2 separate regions of the Homo sapiens genome follow, and region 2 is linked to region 1. The links come from fine-mapping of genetic effects on gene expression. A gene starts in region 1. The other region holds a variant in brackets. All regions are shown on one strand. Distances are from middle to middle.

What was found.
Region 2: its variant is fine-mapped to the expression of UCP2 in whole blood (TOPMed, PIP above 0.99).

What each region holds. Positions count from the first base shown.
Region 1 is chr11:73,976,256-73,988,061 of GRCh38, forward strand. It overlaps UCP2 (uncoupling protein 2), which reads right to left and starts at 6,588. Exons shown (of 8, transcript NM_003355.3): 1 at 6,466-6,588; 2 at 5,221-5,377; 3 at 1,998-2,222; 4 at 1,631-1,841; 5 at 568-762; 6 at 386-487. The coding sequence starts at 2,123. RefSeq lists enhancers at 4,114-4,173, 7,425-7,925 and silencers at 6,499-6,708, 7,009-7,168.
Region 2 is chr11:74,000,062-74,011,867 of GRCh38, forward strand. UCP3 (uncoupling protein 3) reads right to left here and starts at 9,024. Exons shown (of 7, transcript NM_003356.4): 1 at 8,917-9,024; 2 at 6,856-7,076; 3 at 6,108-6,318; 4 at 5,669-5,872; 5 at 4,423-4,524; 6 at 3,766-3,946; 7 at 216-1,465. The coding sequence starts at 6,981. The coding sequence ends at 1,351. RefSeq lists enhancers at 3,954-5,153, 8,633-9,272 and a silencer at 8,319-8,499. The variant A/G (reference allele first, on the strand shown) is at 5,363.

The sequences.
Region 1 (11,806 bases):
CGGGAGGCTGAGGCACAAGAATCGCTTGAACCCAGGAGGAGAAGGTTGCAGTGAGCTGAGATTACACGGGTAACAGAGTGAGACTCTATCTCAAAAAAAACAAAAAACAAACAAACAAAAAAACAAAAACAGACAGGGACTCCAGCTGAGACATCTTCTGAGGACCTGAAAGAGTCATTTTGCCAATCTAGCCTCAGTTCCTCAATGTGCAAAGTGGGAGCTTCATCCCAATTGGCTTCAATATGGCAAGTAAGAGATATCTTACTCTCCCTGCAAAGGGCAAATAGGATGAAAAGATGTGGTCTTCTGGTGTCAGCTAGACCCCCGCACCTGCTCCTGGCATGGGGGAAGGGTGAGACCCAGCACCGTCTACCTCATGACTCACCTGTCATGAGGTTGGCTTTCAGGAGGGCATCCTTGATGAGGTCATAGGTCACCAGCTCAGCACAGTTGACAATGGCATTACGAGCAACATTGGGAGAGGTCCCTGTAGGAGGAGGAAGATCCTGGGTGAGACCAGAGTATCGGGGAGGAGGAAAAGGGGAAGGGAAAACAACTGGTACACACCTTTCCAGAGGCCCCGGAACCCTTCCTCTCGGGCAATGGTCTTGTAGGCATTGACGGTGCTTTGGTATCTCCGACCACCTCCAGCCCGGGCCTGAGCTTGGAATCGGACCTTTACCACATCCGTGGGCTGGGCCACAGCCACAGCCAGGGCACCTGTGGTGCTGCCTGCTAGGAGGCGGCTCCCAATGCTGGCATCTGTGGGCGAGCCATGGGGTCAGTGGCCAGCGGGCTTGCACTCATTTTCTACCTCATCTCTCCTCACCAAAACCACCCTGTCACTGTCATCTCCTGCTTTTGGGAATAGAATCCAGAAGCTTTTGGCCTTCTACAAGCTCTTGCTGTAAGAACTCCTCACATCAAACAAAATATCCCTATGAATATCTACTTCTTGCTAGGGACATAGCAAGGGCTAAGACCAAAATGAAACTTGGTGCTTTCTTTCATAAAACATTTTCATTTACCTGCTCAACAGCCCTGAGAAATCACAATCATTTCCATCTGACAAATGTGAAAACCAAGGCTCAGAGAGAAGTGGCTTTCTGAGGACTGGGATTCCTAAGACTTGGGATCTCAGGTCAGCTTTACTTCTTCCTGCCATGTGATCTGGGAAAGACAACCTTTTGTCTGGGGCTCTGTTTCGTCATGTGTAAAATGGAGGGTTGGCATGGCATACTAAGGAGGTGAAAGGGAAGAACGCTGGCCTTAGAGACGAGTGTCCTGGCTCTCTACTGTGTGTTTTCTGGCTCTCTACTGTGTGCCCCTGGCCAAGTCCCCACTCTACCCACTGCCTTCCCACCTCAGTCTCTTCTTCTATAACACTGGGATGATACTACCTACTCCCAAGGTGGTGTTGAAGACTGTGATGGGATGACGCCCTGCTCAGAGCCTGGTATAGCCCAGGTGCTTAGGAACTATGTGGAGGACCAGGGCCCCTTCCAGTTCTCTGTTCCCCTGATCTTCCTAGGGATCGTGGGGCCTAAAAAACTATATGGCTGAATGAACTAAGATCAATCATCACTGAGAAAAAAGGGCCAAGGGGCCTACACCCTTGCTCCATACTCACGCTCAGAGCCCTTGGTGTAGAACTGTTTGACAGAATCATACAGGCCGATGCGGACAGAGGCAAAGCTCATTTGGCGCTGCAGGCCGGCAACCAGCCCATTGTAGAGGCTTCGGGGGCCCTCAGTACGCACCATGGTCAGAATGGTGCCCATCACACCGCGGTACTGGGCGCTGGCTGTAGCGCGCACTGGCCCCTGACTTTCTCCTTGGATCTGCAAGGCCAAGACAGGGTAGCTACAGGGATAAGCATGTTGCCCTTCCCACCTCCAGTCATCTCGATGCTCCAAACACTGGCCCTTGAGGGGTCTGTGTCTTTGGGGAGGGAACAGAGTAGACACCATCAAGACTCCCAGGCTTCATCCCCTCACCTGTAACCGGACTTTAGCAGTATCCAGAGGAAAGGTGATGAGATCTGCGATGCAGGCAGCTGTGCCAGCCCCAAGAAACTTCACAGTGGCAGTAGGGGGCACATCTGTGGCCTTGAACCCAACCATGATGCTGATTTCCTGCTACGTCCCAGGAGATGGAGAAAAACTGGAGACAGGGGCACCTTTAATCAGCAACAAGACGAGATAGAGGAACTCTGCCGGAATCTAAGCCAAGAGGAGAAAAGCCCCATTAGCCACAATGTCCCCAGGCCCTCCCTGCTCACCATCCCCAAACTCACCTTCCCTAATAGAACCAAGTCCCTCAGCAAGACTCCAAGTGGCCTCATGAGGGAAAACCGATGTGAGCTCGAGAGGCACTCAGTTAGGTGCTGGTGAAGCAATTCCTGCTCAAGCAGTCAATACTTCATGAAGGGCTCCCTCCCTTTCACTGCAGGGAGAGTCTGGATCAGAGCTCTCCTAGCGCTGCCTCATAAACAGCCACTGGACCAGCCCTTTGTCTGCTGTATGCAGAGATTTCACTGATGATGCCCACATTCCTGCTTCTGTGGTTCATCTGGAGAGCTGACAGAAGTAGAGAAAAGTTTCACCCAGACTAAGACCCAACAGGCACAGACCCATAGGCTTATGTTCTGGATGTCTAAGCAGGAATGGTTGCTACAGGTCTGGAACTTAAGTCAAGAAGAAAAGGTACAAGATGACTAATTCAATCCCTTCCCAGACCATCAGTCTAATTCTCTCCTCCAGCTCTCACACAGCTTAGGATCTCTAGAGTCATTGTTTTAGCAAGACTGCTTTGCTGGGCAGTGGTTCACTGAGATGCAGGAGATAGTATCTACTCTAGAGGAGGCTTACTGTTGGGCACAGGGGGTGGATGGGCAGATGATTCAAGCTGCATTTGGGGCTTACAGGACATACTCTCAAAATGCAAAGGAGGGAACAACTAATGCCATTGGGAGAGAAGGAAGAGTGGGTGATCAGAAAAGACTTCTTGGGCTGGGTGTGGTGGCTCACGCCTGTAAACCCAGCACTTTGGGAGGCTGAGGCGGGCGAATCACCTGAGGTCAGGAGTTTGAGACCAGCTTGGCCAACATGGCAAAACCCCATCTCCGCTAAAAATACAAAAATGAGCTGGGTGTGTTGGCACACGCCTGTATTCCCAACTACTTAGGAGGCTGAGGCAGGAGAATCACTTGAACCCAGGAGGTGGAGGTTGCAGTAGCTGAGATCGTGCCACTGCACTCCAGCCTAGGCGACAGAGCAAGACTCTGTTTCAAAAAACAGACAAACAAACAAAAAAAAACCTAGCACTTTGGGAGGCAGAGGTGGGAGGACTGCTTGAACCCAGGAGTTCAAGACCAGCCAGGGCAACATAATGAGACCCTGTCTAAAAAATATAAATAAAAATAAATTAGCTGGACATGGTGGTGCAGGCCTATAGTCCCAGCTACTTGGGACGATTGCTTGAGCCCAGGAGGTTGAGGCTGCAGTGAGCTGTGATTGTGCCACTGTGCTCCAGTCTGGGTGAGAGAGTGAGACCTTGTCTCAAAAAAAAAAAAAACAAACCCCAAAAAACCTAAGGACTTCTTAGATAAGGTAACATTTAGCTAGGTGATTTTGGGGGCTGAGAGTAAACTCTGGGGCATTAGACTCCTCCTGGCCTACCATGTGATGCAGAGAAAACTGCTCTCCTTTTTGTTTGGGCCAGTTTCCTTTCCTCCAACTTAGGGGGATCCGCACTTACACCACAAGACAGGCAGGGATGAGGGGTCCAGGTCAGAGCTGTGAAGAGTGATAAAGTAAACCAAAAGCCCCATTTTGTTCTGAGTTGGAACCACACCCTCCTCCACTGCCCCAGGAGGAAGTGAGCCCAGCACCCTAGTGGGGGAGGGTGACCTGCTTCTTCCCCTGAGCTTATTTCTTTGACTTCATTGGAGCAGCTGCTTTGAGCCCCGCCTGACTGCCTTTGTTGCTGGGGCTCAGGTGAAAGGGCTGGCTGGTGAAGGGAGTCAGCTGTGAACACAGAGACCCATGGAAACAAACAGCTCACCCAGCTTCCTCTTGGGCTTCTCACTCCAGGTGGCTGGGGCAAGCAGGGAAATGAAGATACTCACCATAGCAACTACACTGGGACCTATAGAACAGGGCCTGACCTTATTCCTGTTTCCCTCCAGCTTGCCCACGAGGCTCAGTGAAGACTGGTGCTCAAATGACAGATTGGGTTGATGAAGGTGCCCTCGGACTCCCCAGATTCCCTGCTCTGACACCCCCTTCCCCCAGGAGGTGCTCCACAACTTTCCCCACCCCAACGCCCAGGGCACTGTATTAGCTCAATCCTCAGAGCAGCCCTGCAAGGTGGCTGCCCTTATTTCCATGTGAGATGAGTAAGAGCCACACTTACAGGCACCAAAGCTGGTAGTATTTGCTTTGCACTGCTGCCCAGCTCCTCAGTTCGTTCTTGCTGTTTTATCAGCCCCAGGCACAGACAGGGCCTTTCACAAGGAAAGTTCTCACAGGCTGATTAAACAGTACTGAGAAGGCTCAGGCAAATGGTATCCCTTCTCTGGGCATCAGAGATATGATGACATGAGTCTGTCACATTCCTGACCTTGAGCTGGGTTGCAGGATGTTGTGAAGGCCAGAGAAGAATAAGACCCAGCTGCTGCCCAAAGACAAGTGCACAGAGGTTCAGCTGCCATATTCTGAATGTTGCCTTGGGCTTGCCAAGTCAGGTCCTTCAGAGGGTGGGTAAGATGGCCCTACTAACAGCAATTAAAATGCAGGACTAGAAATAGTTAATCCTATTTTACAGTCCCCAGCAAATAACCAGTTTCAGAGCCGGGCTGATTACCAATCTCGGTTTCAGGGATAGTCAAAAGCTAGCATCAATATGAAGTTAGAACAATAGGTTCCTGTCCTAGCTCTTCTGCTGGCTCCCGGGATGACTTGGGGCCAATCACTGTTACACGTGGGCCTCAGTTTTCTCCTTTATAAAATGGGGACCAAGATCCTTGGCTTGTCCGAGTCAGCTGAAGGGCCAGAATGAGAGCGGGGAGGTGTGAGAGTGCTCTGTGAACTGGAAAGAGCCACTTCACTGTCGGGGGTGGGGATGGTAATTATTTTTGTTAATGCCCTGCTGACTCCTGCCCCTAGACCACAGGGTTAGGAGGCAGCAAGAGACCTCTTCCTTGGACTGGACTCTTACCCGGCTTTGTAAGGTCTCACGGTGAGGCCTCCAAGATCAAGCTTCTCTAAAGGTGTCCCGTTCTTCAAAGCTGCCAGTGGCTATCATGGCCCGATCCCCTTGGTTTTCCATAGAAAATGGGTGGGAGACGAAACACCTAATGGTCATACTATGTGTCCTGTGGGTGAGCAAAGGCAGAGAGTTTAGAAAGGGCCACCTGCCCCAAGACACACAAGCCCACCCAATCCATGCCTTGGAGGGGGATGGGGAACAGGGCCCAGGGACTGGTTAAGTGCACACACTGGAAAGGGGAAAAGCAGGGCGGAAAATGAACCTAGGTACACTCCCCACCCCCACCCCACCTGCTTAATATCACAAATTGGTTCTCATCCAGACTTCTGCTTTTGTAACACTCAGTACTCTATATAAGCACCCCCTAGCACAGTCATCAGACTTTGGTGAGTGGGAGAGTTGTGAGGGGGTCACGATGGGACAGAGACTCTCCGGGAATTGGCTAGGTCCCAGGTCGGGCTGTGAGGAGGTTGGAAGGGCTGGGAGCCGGCCCTGCAGAGGCCAGATTGAGCAGCTCAAAGCCCACTAGAAAAAGCCCCCAAGCCCTGGGAAAGGCGGTGCAGGAACACTGCCTGGAGCTGCCTGGTAAGGGAGAGGTCATTGTGGTCATCGCTGATGGTCCCCATCCAAGGCAGGGCTCGGCATCGTGGTGGAAAGGAGGGAGTGAAAAGGTGGAGGCTCAAACGACAGCCAACTGAACGGGAGAGGGAAAGAACAAAAGGGACTAAGAAAAAGAGAGAAGAGAAATAAAGAACCAAGGACAGAAAGGATTAGCACAGGCCGGACCCGGAGGCTCATGCCTAAAATTCTAGGACTTTGTGAGGCCGAGGCGGGCGGATTGCTTGAGCTCAGCAGTTCGAGGCCAGCCTGGCCAACATGGCGAAACCCCATCTCTACAAAACACAAAAATTAGCCAGGCGTGGTGGCGGGCGCCTGTAATCCCAGCTACTCGGCAGGCGGATCGCTTGAACCTGGGAGGTGGAGGCTGCAGTGAGCCGAGATCGCGCCACTGCACTCCAGCCTGGGAGACAGAGCGAAAGCCTGTCTCAAACAAACAAACAAAAACAAAAAATAAAACCGAGAGAAAGAAAAGAGTACAAACTTGGGTGGGAGAGAAGGTAAATGGAAGAGCGGGCAGCGCACGCAGAACAAGCGTGGGGGGCGCAAAGGGCGCAGGGCTGGGGCCAGGCTCACCGAGCCGCAGGGAGAACACGGCAGTGCGTGCGGCTGTGTCTGTCGGCTGGCGGAGGGCGCGTCGGACGAGCCGGGCGAGCGTGGACAGTCAATCCCAAGGCGCGCGCAGCTGGGCTTCGCAGTGGGGCTCCGCGCAGGCGGCGGCGCGGCTTAAGCCTCGGGGGCGGGGCCCGGGGTGGGGCCTGCGGGGCGGGGCCGGGCCTGCCAGCTCCTACTTGGGTGCGGAGACCCTGGAGCAGCCGCCTTTCCGCGGGGACCGCCCCGCCTAGGGTTCTCTCCATGACTTTCTCCACTCCCGTTTCCGTGCGTCCCATCACCGCGTTTACTCCTTCGTTCCCCGAGATGGTCACTCCCTTGCCACTCCCCGCCTCTGCCTCACACTCTCTCGGGCCGCCAACCTCTGTGAGGATGGCAAGACTGACCGCCAGAAACAAGTCTTGTCCAGTCACACACCTCTTGCCTTCCCAGCCAGGACGGTTTCTAACAGCGTCCAGCGGGGCCGTGTCTTAAGTGCACTTCCTCTTTTATGGGCCCAGCCCCCCTACGCTGGGCAAACTACCCACCCTCCTGCGAGCGAGCGCGCGGCTGGCTCCTGCAGGGCGGGACTGGGGCCTCGCGACCGGCCTCGCTGTCGATTGGTTACAGCCGCCGCGTTGTCGGGGGAAGGAACCAATCAGAACTGCAGCAACAGGTGGCCCGGCAACCGACAACAGCCGTTGGGCTCGGCTGGGGTTCGCGCCTTCTCCCCCGGTGGAGCGGCCTGGCGTTTAGGGACCAGGACACTAAAGGCCCCGGCGGGGCGGGAGCACCCAGCGTGACCTCACGCTCCTACACACAGACAAGCAAACGGGCCGGCCCCCGCACGTGACAAGGCAGAGCCGGGCCCAGGCCAGCTGCCTGTCCAGCCCTGGGATGAGAAAAGGCGTCAGGAGATGGACCGGGCCTGGTTCGCCTTTAATTGGCTGACCCGTCCTGTGGGGGTAACTGACGCGTGAACAGCCAACAATTGGGCCCTCTGGCCGGGACAAACACGTGCGTTTGGGGAGTAGAAGAAGGCTGGTATTAACCTCCATTTTACAATGAGGAAACGGAGTCCCAAAGACGTTCAGTCATCTTCCTGATATTCACACACTTACACCCTGGTCAGGCCGGCGCCATATGTGTTTTCACCAGCAGAAGGGACTGCCAGGGAACAGCTGAGGGGACCAGAGCTGGGATGGGCCTGGATAATTATAGCGGAAAGAAAAACACGCCGAGCGCATGGTCCTGGCAGAAGCAGCGTGGAAACAGAAGTCAAGGCAGATTATTTCTGCCATGAGGAGATCTTGCCATGTAGGAAAAAAGAAAGAAAGAGAGGAAAGAAAGACAGAGAGAGAGAGAGGAAAGACAGAAAGACAAGAAAGAAAGAGAAAGAAAGAAAAGAAAAAAAAAAAGAAAAGATAAAGTTTTTTTGTGGCACTGTGAGTCTCCCTCCGCCAGGTTCTCTAGCTTTTGCGCTGAGCTCTGTCTGGCTGTGCATTCCGGAGAGGCTCGGCAAATTTGCTGTGAGATTGCTGAGCAACAGCAGAACAGATGCAAAGGCCTGCAGACCAAAAATTGTCCCCCTGGCTGTCCAAACAGGGAAGAATCTGGATTCCAGAAACTATATACTTATTATCCTTGGCAAAAGAGACTGTTAAAAGTGTGGACGCTGAAAAAGGGAAGTGGAGATCAACAGGACGCAGCATGAAGTCCTTAAGAAGTCCTCTTTGAAAAAGAAGATGTGTTTAGGGTTTAAACTATTTTTATTATTTATTTATTTAACTTATTTTTTGAGACAGGGTCTCTTTTTGTTGCCCAGGCTGGAATGCAGGTGGCTGGGTCTCAGCTCACTGCAGTCTTGACCTCCTGGGACAAGCAGTCCTACTTCTGCCTCCCTAGTAGCTGGGACCACAGGGATGAGCCACTAAGCCTGGCTAATTTATTTATTCTTTGTAGTGACAGGTCTCCCTATGTTGTCCAGGCTGCTCTTGAACTCCTGGCCTCAAGCAGTCCTCTGACCTCGGACTCTCACAGTACTGGAATTACAGGTGTGAGCCACTGTGCCTGGCCTCAAGAAATTCTCTTAAATTCTTTCAGGGTGGGGGCAGATCTGAGCAATCCTATAGACATACAAACGCTGCACCCTTGGATTTTTAGCAGCTTGCTCAAGTCATAAGATGTCCTGTGGACAAACTGGAGAATGTATGGGTACAGATAAATGTATTTTGAAAACTTGTAGCCAGGTGAGGTGGCTCACGCCTGCAATCCCAGCACTTTGGGAGGCTGAGGCGGGCAGATCACCTGAGGTCAGGAGTTGGAGACTAGCCTGGCTAACATGGTGAAACCCTGTCTCTACTAAAAACACAAAAATTAGCTGGGAGTGGTGGTAGGTGCCTGTAGTCCCAGCTACTCGGGAGGCTGAGGCAGGAGAATCGCTTGAACCCGGGAGGCAGAGGTTGCAGTGAGCTGAGACTGCGACATTGCACTCCAGCCTGGGCGACAGAGCAAGACTCTGTCTCAAAAAAAAAAAAAAGAAAACTTGTTTCACATCTATTTCATTGAATTGTGTGTACACGCACACACACACACGTTTATTTGTAAATATTTTGTATGTGCCAATAACCAAATTGACAAAGTTTCATATATTTTGTTGTATAATTTTAACATCATCCCAGGAAACAATCCACTGTGCTTACAGTTTTGGAACTTCTAAATCTTTAAATACAAACTGTATTTGAAACACTGAAAATGAAAAAAAGACACAAGAATGAAAGAGAAAACTGAAAACATTAGGTAATTAAAACCAACATGAGAAAAACTTAAACATTTCCTTAGTCTCTGATAATTTCTGCTAAAAATATTGAGTAGATTGGCTATATTAACTTTCCTCCCCTCATCAAACAAGCATACAGTTATCTGATTGCATTTTTAAAAAGAAGTCGAATTTGATAACCATACATTTTAAAAATTGACATGAAACTGAATTTCTTTAAACCCACTTAGCAGATGAGATGGGGCACGGTGGCTCACACCTGTAATCCTAGCAGTTTGGGAGGTTGAGACGGGTGGATCACTTGAGGCCAGGAGTTGAAGACCAGCCTGGCCAACATGGCAAATCCCTGTCTCTACAAAAAATACAAAAATTAGCTGGGCATGGTGTTGCACGCCTATAGTTCCAGCTACTTGGGAGGCTGACATGGAGGATCACCTGAGCCTGGGAGGTTGAGGCTGCAGTGAGCCATGATTGTGCCACTACACTCCAGCCTGGGTGACAGGGTGACCCTGTCTCAAAAAAAATAAAAAATACCTGTAATCCCAGCACTTTGGGAGGCCAAGGCGGGTGGATCATGAGGTCAAGAGATCGAGACCATCCTGGCCAACATGGTGAAACCCCATCTCTACCAAAAATACAAACATTAGCTGGGTGTGGTGGTGCTTGCCTGTAGTTCCAGCTACTTGGGAGGCTGAAGCAGGAGAATCGCTTGAACCTGGGAGATGGAGGTTGCAGTGAGCTGAGATCCTGCCACTGCACTCCAGCCTGGCGACAGAGCAAGACTCCGTCTCAAAATAAAATAATTTTAAAAAACCTCTTAGGAGATTAAATTGAATCATATATTTGTTAATTTCCATGTCCATTTTGATGTTTGTTCTTCTTCTTGGTTTTGGTTTCTGAAAAAAGGGTGGGGAAATGGTGACACAAAGCCAGATGGAATTACTTGACATGTTTGTCACATAATTAACCATTGTAAATGAATTTTCCTTGGTAACACATCCTGGTTTTTTTTTTTTTTTTTTTTTTTTTTTTTTTTTTTTTTTGAGATGGAGTCTTGCTCTGTCGCCAGGCTGGAGTGCAGTGGCGCGATCTCGGCTTACTGTAACCTCCATCTCCCAGGTTCAAGCGATTCTCCTGCCTCAGTCTCCCGAGTAGCTGGGATTACAGGTACGTGCCAACATGCCCAGCTAATTTTTGTATTTTTAGTGGAGATGGGGTTTCACCATGTTGGCCAGGATGGTGTCTATCTCTTGACCTTGTGGTCCACCTGCCTCGGCCTCCCAAAGTGATGAGATTACAGGTGTGAGCCACCGGGTCTGGCCCACTCCTGTATTTTAAAAGTTGAATTGAAAAACACCGAGTTAAAAGATGCATTTTTTCCCATGAATTGTGTGAATGAAATAAAGCTAAATTCACAAAGCATGAACATAGCAGTCGTTCTCATTTTGCTCACAGTTCTAAAAATGCAAATTCTCCCCAACTTCTTAGAGCATGACAGGTGTTCAGCTGGCAATCTTTCCATGTTTACATAAGAAGCTAGAATTGATCATATGGTTTTACAGTGCTTTCCCGAAAATCTGTGATTGTTATTAGATTCTGTTTTTCCTCTATTACCTCTCAAAGGAAATAAAGCAGCAAATTACTCCCATATTTTGAGCTCTAAATTCAAGAACTACTAAATTCACTGCCAGCCATTACAAATATTCAGTTCTTTATTAAGGTACACATCATTACAGTAGGCTCAGAGTGCTAATACATGAATAATAACTATAGTTAGTAAAACAATGCAAATGGAGATCAGTTTAAAGAGCCCTGATCAATGAAGTAATTTTCAGTTGAAAAATTGTAGAAGGTATGTATTAAAAAGCACTAGTAATATATGATAATTCAATAAGTCATTGAATGAATAAGTGAGTGAATCCAACTAACTAGAAATTATTTTGATATATTAGTTTTCTTTTGTTTTTTCTTTTTTTTTTTGAGATAGAGTTGTGCTGTGTCGCCCAGCCTGGAGTGCAGTGGCAAGATCTTGGCTCACTGCAACCTCTGCCCCCCAGGTTCAAGCGATTCCTGCCTCAGCCTTCCAAGTAGCTAGGATTACAGGCACACACACCACGCCGTGCTAATTTTTTGTATTTTTAGTAGAGGTGGGGTTTCGTCATGTTGGCAGGTTGATCTTGAACTCCTAGCCTCAATAGATCCACCCACCTCGGCCTCCCAAAGTGCTGGGATTATAGGTGCAAGCCACCACACTCCACCTAGTTTTCTTTCTTCTTCTTCTCTTTTTTTTTTTTTTGAGACCGAGTTTCACTCTTGTTGCCCAGGCTGGAGTGCAATGGCATGATCTGGGCTCATTGCAACCTCCACCTCCCGGGTTCAAGCGATTCTTCTGCCTCAGCCTCCCGAGCAGCTGGGATTACAGGTACCTGCCACCACGCCCAGCTAATTTTTGTATTTTTAGTAGAGACAGAGTTTCACCATGTTGGCTGGGCTGGTCTTGAACTCCTGACCTCAGGTGATCCACCCGCCTCGGCCTCCCAAAATGTT
Region 2 (11,806 bases), 24 kb after region 1:
AAGCTTGGAAGTCGGTCGTCTGGTTCAACCCTGCCTTTTGCAGAAGCAGGAGCTGGAACCCTAAAAAAATAAAGCTACTTGCCTGCAATTAAACAGGGTGAGAGGGGGCAGATGAAGTGTAGGCATGTGGGGCTGGATCTGGCCCTGCCCTGACACATAGAAAGCCTGAAATAGAAGTGAGAAAGGAAAATTCCAAGAAAGAAAAGGCAGAGAAGTGGCTGTTCTTACTCCCACACCTAAGGTGTGAATTCTTTTATTGAGTCATAATAATTTCCCGAGAATTCCGAGTCCTGCTACTTTAGGTTCTTGCCCAGGAATCCACCTCTTTTCCCCCAAGCCCAACAATCCTTTGAGGTACTCATGATTGAGCACGTGGTGGGGGGGGTGGGGAAGAGGCTGCATGGGGGTGGGGCTCCTGTGGCTTCACGTCATCCACTGTCACCTCTGGTCCCCAAGTCTCTGGATCCTTTGGTCTCACCTCTAGACAACCGTATCTTTCAAACCTTCTTCCCTGGCAACTCCTCTCTGTCCCGACAAAATCTCTCCCAAGGCATTGTCCTTGTAGTTAGATTTACACAGAGCTTTTGCTTTTATAAAGTGCGTTCATGCCCAGCTTCTCACTTGCATGTCATAGCACCCCTGGTGAGGTGGACAGGGAAGGGATGGCTCCCTCCATTTTGTAGGAAAGTGGGGGCTGCCCTCTTGATTCTTCAGTGTCGTCAGGGAATATTTACGAGCCCCAGCCTCACATGGGCCCAGCAGGGCTTCTTTAGCACAGGCTCTAGTTTTTTCTCTTGTTCCTTGGGTTTCCTAGAATCCCAAAGGACTCTCTGTGGCAGACATATTACAAATAGGCTGATGATGCATGTGTGATGGTGCAGCTGCAGTCGCCAGCTCTGTGTTGCTGGGTGGCATCCCTCCAGGCTCCGTGGCTGATCTCCCACTCCATTGTGGGCCCCTCCTGTCCCGTGCTTGCCATCCTTCCTGCTTATCATTCATTATCTAACCAGATTTCACGGGGATACACGTCTCCAACCTTCCATTTTGTCCAAATGGATCTATCTTGGTTTATTTTCTCTTGCCTAAATATTAGGCATGCCTAATGGGTTTCAAAAATTAATATAATTTATTTTCCATCTTGTCAGTGCAAAACAAAGGTGTTCTTGAGGCATGGCAGTGAAGACCAGAATCCCTCCTCCTCTTCTACTTCTGTTTCTTGAATCAGCAACAAGTAAACAACAGTTCTGTAAACATGTGTGGGTCTGTGTCCATGTGTGCGTGGATGCACCGTTTTCTTCCATTCTTAACTGGTTTCGGACACGTTAGCTACCAGTGGCCTTCTTGTCTTGTTCAAAACGGTGATTCCCGTAACATCTGGACTTTCATCAGGGCCCGTTTCAGCTGCTCATAGGTTACGAACATCACCACGTTCCAGGATCCCAAACGCAAAAAGGAGGGTGTAAATCTGATAAGAAAAACAACCAACACATCAGGTGGAGTGCTAGGGGACCACAACAGATGCGTGTGCTCTCCCGGGACACAGTGGTAGTGCCAGAGGATCCAGACTTCTGTTCATCACAAGCATTTTCTGAATCCTTTCAGTCTCTCTCTCTCTTTTTTTTTTCTGCTAAGGGGATTTAGGCAGAAGTCGGAGTAAGGAAAAGAAAAAAAAACTCACGTTTTGAGACGGGTTACTGTGTTAGGCAGCGAATTCTCACAGTTCTATAAGGCAGCCATGTTGCTGCCAGGCTCTTTTTCACAAACTGAGGCCCAGGGAGGTTAAGAGCTCAACCAAAGACCCGCGGCTAGTAAGTGTCAGAGGTGCGGTTCTAACTCCACCCTGCTGCTGGGTGTTTCTGGGCTCAGTTACACCCCGGGTGGCCAGCCCTAACATGGCCCCCTGCCAGGACATGGAGAAGCTTGGGCTTTGCAGGGTGAATACAGTGTGGCACCAGATTTAGCTCTTCTCCAGAGAGGCTGGCTGTGCTGTGATGGCATAGCACAGTGTCCCCACCTCAGCTGTGGCTCACCAACTCAGGGAGAAGCCCACGAGCTGGCCCCTGCCCCTCTCTCAGCCTGTCCCTCCACTAACCACCTCCTGGGCCCGTTTGCTCCCACCAGACTCAGCTAGTCACATTCCCTGACGATGCCAGGCCCTCTTCCCTCCATGCCTTTGCTCCTCTTGCTCCCTCTGCCTGGACTGTCCCCTCCTCTCCTCCTTCCCTGGCTGGTTGCTCTTTGCTCTGGAGGACTCAGTTTGGGCACTGTGACCTCATGCCATGGGTTTTCTTGACTCTTGTGGGGACGATAGTACTGTGACAACAAATGTAAACTCTGGAGTCAGACCTGGGTTCAAATCCAAGCTCTCCCAGTTTCTAGCTTTACAATCTGGACACATCACTTAATCTTTCTAAGCCTCAGTTTCCTTATCTGTAAAATGAGGAAAATAACAGTATCTGCCTTGTGGAGTTAGTCGTGCAGATTAGGTGAGTTAATGTTGGACAGCACTCAGCACAGGGCCCAGCATCAATACATGCTCAGTAAATACCACCAACTTATCTGCTGCTCTTTGAGGGAGGCATAACCCAGGGCCTGGCACCTACAAGATGCTCCAGAAATGTTGGACAAGTGAAAGCAGTAACTGAGACAAGTGGCTACAGCTGAAGACTGTAATGATAGAGGCACTTTTTGGAAGAACAGTCTGTCAATTGCAGTATAGTTTTATTACGTCATTCCCAGGCTTGAGAACCTATAGCAGCTCTTGTTCACTTGTTGGGTCCATTCTAACACTGGGCACCAAAAAACTCTCTGTTGAAGACATCAGCAGTGGGAGGTGAAAGGGCCAAGCTAAGAGCTTACCAGTAGGATAAACAACATTGTTGGGTGTGGTGTCTGACGGTCAGGGTTTGAGCCATGGCTCCACCATTTTAACCTGTGATCTTGGATAAGTTACTTAACTTTTCTGACACTCAGTCTTTTCCTTAGTTAATGTGGACAATACTACCCAGTTCAAGGGGCTGTTGGGATAACGTGTGTAAAGTGCTCAGCACGAGGCCTAATATAGAGTGACTTAGCTATTGTGATAATCATAAACAACCTGCATTATCGAGTGCTCACTTTGTGTGAGGGACTGTGGGAGATAAAAGATGTCTGAGCCACTTTTGCTGTCAGGAACTTGCTCTTTGCATGAGGAATAATTTAAGCTTACAAATACTATAATACAAGGCAGGAGGTGATAAATACCATAAAAATGGTATCAAATGGCATTGCAGAAGTTCCCAGGGAGGAGGAAAAATTTACACCTGAGAGTGTTAGGGAGGAGGTGGCATTTGAACTCGTCTTGAAGGATGGCTAAAATTGACAGCCTGTAGATGATGAGGCATTCCACGCAGAGGGAGCAGTAAGTGCAAGAAAACGTGGAGCGTGTGGAGACAGTGAGGAAGGCACTGGCCATGGTCAGTGTGGTGCTCAATGGCCATGGCAGGAGGTCCAGGAGGTCTCAGGATTGCTAACTTCCTCTGGAGACAGGCAGTACTTTTACCTATTCCTGGAGTGTTTGTTCTCAGTCAGGCTTCCCTAACCCTCCCCATCAGGTATGGTTCACTTTTTTTCTTTTACTTGCATGGTTTTTTAAACTTCTTCTTTGTGGCATTTACATCTGTACTCTTCACCGCTACATCCCAGGTTGACCCACGGTAGCCACATTCGAAAAGAAAGAAGCCCCTGTTCTCTGGGAGGGAGTGCTGGAGGCAGGAGGAGGCTCACCCCTTGTAGAAGGCTGTGGGGCCCTCCTGGGCCACCATCTTTATCATACAGTCGAGGGGGCTGAAGTACTGGCCTGGAGGTGAGTTCATATACCGGGTCTTCACCACGTCCACCGGGGAGGCCACCACTGTGGCACAGAAGCCGGCTCCAAAGGCAGAGACAAAGTGGCAGGGGAAGTTGTCTGCAGAGGAAGGACAAGCAAATATCAAGGAGTGCATTTGTGTTCTGTCCATATGTATGCACTGTTTGTCCCCAACTCAACCGTGAACTCCCTGAGCATAGGACAGTATTTTCCATATCTCTCACAGTGCCCTGGGCTAAGCTCTTGGTAAGTACTGGCAAACTAGGCCTGGGCTGACCCAGAGGTGGGAGGTCATGCAGGCTGTTTGAGGAAACTGAAGTCGGAGAAGGTGAGAGACCCCTGCTTAAAGCTATATAGTGAGAGGTGGTGCTGGGACTGGAACCCAAGTCTCCAGCCTCCCAGCCCAGGGGTCTTTCCTGCTTGTCACCACAATGTACCTGGCACTTTTTACTAGGCACTGCTTCTCTCTCTGCTCCTTCTAAAACCCAGTTGCCTCTGGGTGGTGCCCACTCCACGGAGTTCTGGGTTCCCTCCCTGCTGAGGGAGAGCTGCCTGCCTGGAGCCCAGGGCCTCACCAGTGAGCAGGTGGTAGTCCAGCAGCTTCTCCTTGAGGATGTCGTAGGTCACCACCTCAGCACAGTTGACGATAGCATTCCTCATGATGTTGGGCAAAGTTCCTGTTAGGAAGGCGGTGGGGAGGGATGTGAAATGGGTGGGGAGGGAGGAATGGGAAATGGGAGAAATGGATGCCCTGGCTGCAAGGCCACAGGCCCCAGTTTTGGGGCCATAGTGCCCCATTCCAATGGTCTCAGCCAGAGGATCCCACCCCAGCTGAGCAGATTCCACATTTTCCTTTCTAGGGTTAACAACTCTCAGATTATCCATGTTTTCCTCAGAGACAGAGAACAGAGAGGCCCACTTGTGTTCATTTGGCCACATTTGGAGGGTGATCTGCAATAGCTGTCAAAATTAAAATATGCTTCCTGGAGACCCAGCTGCAGCCAGAAAAGAAAGTCATTCAGCGAGAGGCTGAGCTCTTGGAACAGTGACAGAATGTGGTGCCAGCAGGGCCCTAGGAAACTGTCAGGATCAAACCCCTGGTTTCACAGGTAAGGGGACAAGCTCTGAAGGGTGCCCAACAAGTGAGTGAAGAGCCCCAACTTAAGAGGTGTCCTGCCCTTAAACTTCACTGGGTCAGTTTCTTCTGCAAACGTTCCTGCAACCTCTGGTTCACATGCGGAGAGAGTCCTGCATTCATCGCAGTGGCTGCCATGTGGACACATAGGGAGCCCTCCAGCTTTGCTCCCAAGGAAGCGCTTCCTCGTTGCATCTCCCTGCGCCCACTCCTCACAGCTGTGCTTTTCTGATGCTCCTCTTTTTCCTCCGGACCCTGCTTGAGGGCCCCTCCCCTTCCGTCTCCACACACCTAGAGCCTGTTCAGTCTTCCAGGCCCAGCTTAGGTGTCACCTTCTCTGCAGAGCCCGCCTCTGGAGCTCCACCTCTGGGGCAACCCCT[A/G]CCACATCCTGCCTGTGGTGTAGCTGCATCTTATCTCCTCTGCTGTCCTCATGCCCTGGGCGTGTGAAGGTGTCTTAAGTTCATTTCTGGCTCCCTCACATCAACCTGCACATGGCAAAGGGCTGGTAAAATGAACTGAGTTTGAGGGGCTGTGGCAGGTCAGTGAAGTATCTTTGGTTGTGATGTTCTTTCAGAATCACTGGAACACGCCATGCTGGGAGTCCCCTCCTTACTGGGGTCCCTGCCCCAGCCTGAGGGGAGGGAAAGCTCTGCCTAAGACCGCCTGCGTCCAGAGTCCAGACCTACCTTTCCACAGGCCCCTGACTCCTTCCTCCCTGGCGATGGTTCTGTAGGCGTCCATAGTCCCGCTGTATTTTCTGTCGCTCCTGGATGGCCCGAGGTGTATGCTGGCCTGAAATCGGACCTTCACCACATCTGTGGGCTGGGCACAGGTCACCGCCATGGCTCCTGTGGTGCAGCCGGCCAAAATCCGGGTAGTGAGGCTGGAGTCTGGGAGGGGCAGAGAGAGTGGGCCAGTGTCCCCTACTAAGCAGCATTCTGGGACATGCTGTTCTCTGCGGGGCTGCCCCTGCAGCTTCCTTGATGTCCACTCAGAGCCTCCTCATAAGCGTCCGGTACCAGCTTCCCCCCGCCCCTGGCTCTGCCTCTGAGTCTAGACTTCCCTGGTCTCTTGACCCACACACTTTCAGCCACCCCTTTGGTGTTCAGGGACCTGGTCACTCACTGTCCGCGCCTTTGGGGGTGTACACCTGCTTGACGGAGTCATAGAGGCCGATGCGGATGGAGGCGAAGCTCATCTGGCGCTGCAGGCCGGCCACCAGCCCATTGTAGGGGCTGCAGGGACCCTCAGTCCGCACCATGGTCAGGATGGTGCCCAGCACGCCACGGTACTGCACGAGCCGGGCCGTCTGGACCGCCTGGTTCTCCCCCTGGATCTGAGGGACAATAGCAGGGGGTGAGGACTCAGATGGGAAGGCAAGAAGGGGCTGCGTGCACAGGAACCCTGCTGGGGCTGGGCCTGCCTGGGCTGGGCCTGAGAACAACCATGCTGGTCACAGTAGAAATCACTGGTGTCTGCGCAGCATTTTACCATTCACAAAGCAGTATTATACACATGGCTTGGTGTTTGATCCTCAGAGTAAATCAGAGGGACAGATTGTTTTTCCCATTTTATAAGTGCTTCGTGGCTTGCCCAAGGTCACACAGTTAATTCCTTACTTTTACCTCACACTGCATGCTTTACAAAGTAGGGCCTAGCCCATAAAGGGCCCTGTCACATCATGCAAAGAATTTAGATTTTTTTGTCCTGGTGGATGGTGATGGGAGGAGGCAAGGAAGGGTCCTAAGCAGTGGAGTGAGAGTCTTTGTCAGGGTTCTGAGGAAGGGCATGTGGGCACACGTCATGGGGGATATGGGAGAGAACTAGCCCCTCCTTCCATGTGATCAATGACCCTTGGCCAAAGGGCACCTACCTGCAGGCGGACCTTGGCTGTGTCCAGTGGAAAGGTAACGAGGTCAGCAAAACAGGCTGCTGTGCCTGCCCCCAGGAACTTCACAGCCATGGTGGGAGGCACGTCTGAAGGCTTCAGTCCAACCATAGTCCTGGAAGGCTCTGCCCAGTCCCTTTAGGGCCGAGAGGAGGTCCAAGGAGAGAGGCTGCTCCACAGCCCTGGGCTTCAGTGCAGCGGTGGGGCTGCAGGAGACAGGCCAGAGAAGGCTGATGGAGTGATGTCTGGCCTGGCTCCCAGGAACTCTTCCTTACCCAGGAGGGGCTTTAGAAAGGGAGAAGCCTGGGTGGTGCCATACTTAAGCTGCATGAATTTGGCCTATAAAAACAGGTCACGTTCCTATCCCTTGAATTTTGCAATCCTCCTCCTGACCCTCTCCCTCCCCTCCTTACCAGGGGTAGGCAGAGCTGATAGTGGTACCTGCACTGTATACATGAGGAAACCGAGGCTCAGGCATCTGTTCTCCCCAATATCAAACTGCCTCCTTTTTTTTTTTGAGACAGGGTCTCACTCTGTTACCTGGGCTGGAGTGCAGTGGTGCAATCCAGGCTCACTGCAGCCTTGACCTCTTGGACTCAAGTGACCCTCCCACCTTCAGCCTCCCGAGTAGCTGGGACTACAGGTGTGCATCACCATACCCAGCTAATTTTTTATTTTTTGTAGAGATGGGGGTCTCTCTATGTTGCCTATTCTGGTCTTGAACTCTTGGCCTCAGCGTGATCACTTGACAAGAGGGGCAGTTCTTAGCCACTCATGGAAAATGGAATGGATGGACACAGACTCAGGTCAAAAGCCCACCTTGGGGCTCTAGAACTTTCAGTAGTCAAGCTGCGGGAGGAGGGAAAGCCACAGTGGTGGGCACAGGTAGGAGGTGCCTTGAGGCCAGCACTCCCCAATCTTCTTCCCAATTCACTCCAGACTCTCCTAGACCCCTAGCAGCCGGCAGCCTTTTGCCACTGGCCAGTGGAGGAAGAAGTCAAAAGTGGAACCCTCATTACTGTAGCTCTGCTGGGGCTCCTGAGGGATGGGATGTTCTAGTCAGCATGGTCCATTAATGTTTGCTGGTTGCTTCTTGCACCAGATACCGTGCTGAGGGCTTTACAGACACTGACTGATTTGATCCCTTCATAAGGCTACAAGTAGTTGCTATTATTATTCTCATTTCGTAAACCAGGGACCTGAGGCTTCCAGGGCTTTTGCTAGTCATACAGCTGAAGTGCTGGAGCTGAGATTGGTGCCCACGTTTGTCTGACATCTGAAGCTGCGCCTGTTTCACTGCCCAGAGAGTCTCAGACTTCAGGGAGAGCCAAGGATCCCTTGAGCTGCTTGTTTACAGAGCAGATTCTCAGCTCTCAGCCCCAGAGATCCTGATTTAGGTCTGGGGTGGGGCCTAGGAATCTGCATTAGGAAAACTCCCTGTGGTAGCTCTGAAGCAGGGGAAGAGGACCCCATTTTGAGACATCCTACCCAACACCAGTTGCCTCCCCAACTCCAACCCACCCTCCCGGCAAAGCCTTCACAGCAGCCCACTGAAGAAGCCGTCTGGGCAGAGACCATGGGCTCTGTAAAGCTCCCAGCAAATGACCTGGACCACGCCTCAGGTCAGAAGTGCCCCTGTCATCCCTACTCAGGAAGAGGGCCCCAGGGTCCTCATGGAAAGAGAGGGATTTATGCTCTGGAGGAATCGCAGAGATTCTGGGGCAGGCAAAGAAGAAAGCCACTTCCTGTCTATGGGGATTTGCAAAATCCCACCAGAGGCAGCCAGCAAGGCAAAGGGGGTGTGAGTCTTGAGTGAGTGACACGGGTGTTGGGTTCAAGCCCCAGCCCTGCCACAGTACCCTCATCAAGGCCACAGCTCCCTTTTCATAAGGTGGCGGCTGGACTGAATCTCTATCAGGTCTGACAAGCTGCAGCTAGTGAGCCCTGACTGCTCGGGGCTGCTCTCTGAAAGCCTCCAATGAAAGGGAGAACAAGGAGAAGGGAGAGGGAGAGGGGAAGGGATGAGGGAGGAGAAAGGGGTCTTACCTGTGAGTCCTGCCACGGCAGGGGCAGCACAGGGGCTCCCTAGGGCTCCATCCCAGGAGGTGGCAGCAGGGATTGGATGGCCCCTCCTTGTCATTCACTGTTGTCTCTGCTGCTTCTGGCTTGGCACTGGTCTTATACACACGGGCTGACCTGAAACCTTATCCTAGAGAAGTTGGTTGACAGCCTGATCACTTGACAAGAGGCTGGCTGGTGAGGGCAGTGAGGTGAGAGGGGAGGTGAGTGAGTTCCAGATCTGGTTCAGTCCTCTTGACTTGGGGTGCTTTAATATAGCTCCTTTAAGCTGTGGACGCTTCCTTGGTGACAAGGGTGTATGGGGGGGTGGACCTGCTGCCACTTTTGAGTCCAAAGGTCAAGGCCTCCCACGATAGGCTGGGCACAGCTCTCCCAGGTCTCTTAATAATAATGTCATTTCTTTGTGCCTACTATGTGCTAAATATTTTACATACATTACTACTATTTTCCACAATCCTATGAGATAGGTACTATTAGGATTCTATTTTTTTTACTTTTTTTTTTTGTAATTTAAAATTTTTTAGTAGAGACGAGGTCTTGCTGTGTTCCCCAGGCTGGTCTTGAACTCCTGGGCTTAAGTGATCCTCCTGCCTCAGTCTGGCAAAGTGCTGGGATTATAGGTGTGAGCCACTGCACCCGACCTAATTTTTTTTTTTTAAATTACAGATTTATTGATATAGAATTCACATACCGTACAATTCATCTGTTTCAAGTGCACAATTCAAATGGTTTTTAGTATATTCTGAGTGGCACAACCATCAACACAATCTATTTTAGAACATTTTCATCACCCTCTCACCCTGGAAAAACTCCATACACATTGGTAGTCACCTCCCTTCCCCCGCTCCCCAGCCTCAGGCAACCACTAATCAATCTACTTTCTGTCTCTATAAATTTGCCTGTTCTGAACACTTCCTAGAAATGGAATCATCCAATATGTGCTTGTTTGTGACTGGCTTCTTTCACTTAGTATAGTAATGCTTTCAAAATTCATCCATGTTGGAGCCTGTATCAGTATTTCGTTTCTTTTTAGTGCTGGGGATCCTAAAATCTTACCACTTATTTTACTGAGGAGGAAATGGAATCTCAGGGAAGTCATGTAGCCAGCACGTGGCGGGGCCTGACTCCAGCCTGTAAACTGTAAGGCATTTTGGGCTTATCTACTGTGACCACCATTCTCTCCAACATGACACTTGGAGGCTTTAGCATGGACACTGCTGGAGCCAAGGGAGCTGGGACCTGGTGGAAGGGTGCCCCACAGAAGCTACTGGAGGCTCCATCTGTGGGCACTCAGAGTAAGGGCTGGGCACAGCTGAATCGGGCCCCAGGTGATGGGGGAAGGGGAGAAGAAGAAGAGAAGGGAGGGGAGGAGTGAGAAGCAGAAGGGAGGGAAGGAAAGGGAGTTAACTGGGTAGGGCAGAGGAGGAGTAGGCAGAAGTCTTTTCTGGACTGGGGCACAGAGCCAGCGTCACAGGGCAGGTGGTCAGAAGCATGGATGTTCAAGTGCAAAGCTTGGGCTGTACCTGTCCTCTTCCTTGGACCAGGCCCTGACCTTAATGTCAGCAGAATAAGCAGCTGCATTAGTGTTAAGAGGGAAGTGGCTGTCAGGGCTGCTGAGATTAGGAAGGCTCAGGAAGTAGGTTCTGAGCTCCATCTGTAATTGCTAGTCTAGAGGTGATGCAGTAAATTGCAGGGAGTCTGTGGGGGAAGAATAGAGTAGAAGCCCAAACCAGGAGGCAGCAGGCTCTGGAGAAACCTAGTGGGAGGGAGGGCCAGGCTCTCTTTAGCTTGGGAGCTTGAGGGCAGGGCCAGGTCTGCCTGCTTTGGCTCCATGTCCTGAGGCCAGCCCATGCTAGAAGTCCGAAGGCTGCCTGCTCTGGGTTGGGATGCAACCAGCCTAGGGATCAGAAACACCTATTCACAGGTCTCTGTGGAGGGAGGGCTCAAAGGGAAGAGAGGCAGCCACTGGCTCGTTCTGGTGGTGGGAACACCTATCTCATGCCTTAATCCATGCCACACGCCTGGTCAAGTCATTTATCTCGGAGTTGGCACTGGGAGATAGATTCAACTTCCGGGGATAAGATATTGATAAATAACACACTGTTTTGAAGTGGAGGTGGGAGGTCTCCACCCTCAGGGTCCTTTTGTGTTATCAGAGGCTGCTCTCAGCCTGGGGTAGGAGTGTGTCCTCCTGACCCCGATCAGGTTGTCTGCGGGAGCTGGAGTGGGATTTGGAGGAATATTCTTTACCTGGGGCTTTCCCCCTCAGGCCTGGGCCCTGACTGCCCCTCTTTAGGTCCCCTGGGCCCCAAGGGAAGTGGGGCCCTGGGCCTTGAATGCTCTGTGCTGGTGACTTGAGAGGGAGGCTGGCCTCTGTGGTGCTGGGGAGGGGTGGGCTGGCAGGCGTCGGAGCAGAGATAAATAGAAGCGGGAGGGCTTGTCACCAAGAAGGCAGCACCCACTCCTTCCTTGAGGTTCCCGCATCATTTTGCACCCTCTGAGGCCCAGGAGTGCTCTGCCTGCCCCAGTGGCTGCATGCTTGCCTCTCTACTGGTTTGCTCCCGAAAGTCAGGAGAGTGGGTGGGGCTGACATTTCCTAAGCTTCCACCATGTGCCAAAAGTAGGCGAAGCACTTTCACAAATGTCATCTCATTTGATCTTCCTCACAACCCCATGAAGCTGGGGTGATTATCTCTGTTTTACAGACGAGGCCACAGAGGCTCAGACGCAGTGAGACTGGTCTCTATCTCCAGCTGCACACTGCTCACAGGCTTTCCTGGCTCTCTCTCTATAGCTGTCCACAGCCTGGGCCAATTCTCTGTGCTCACCCCAAGACCTGTCTCTTCTAGGAAGCCTT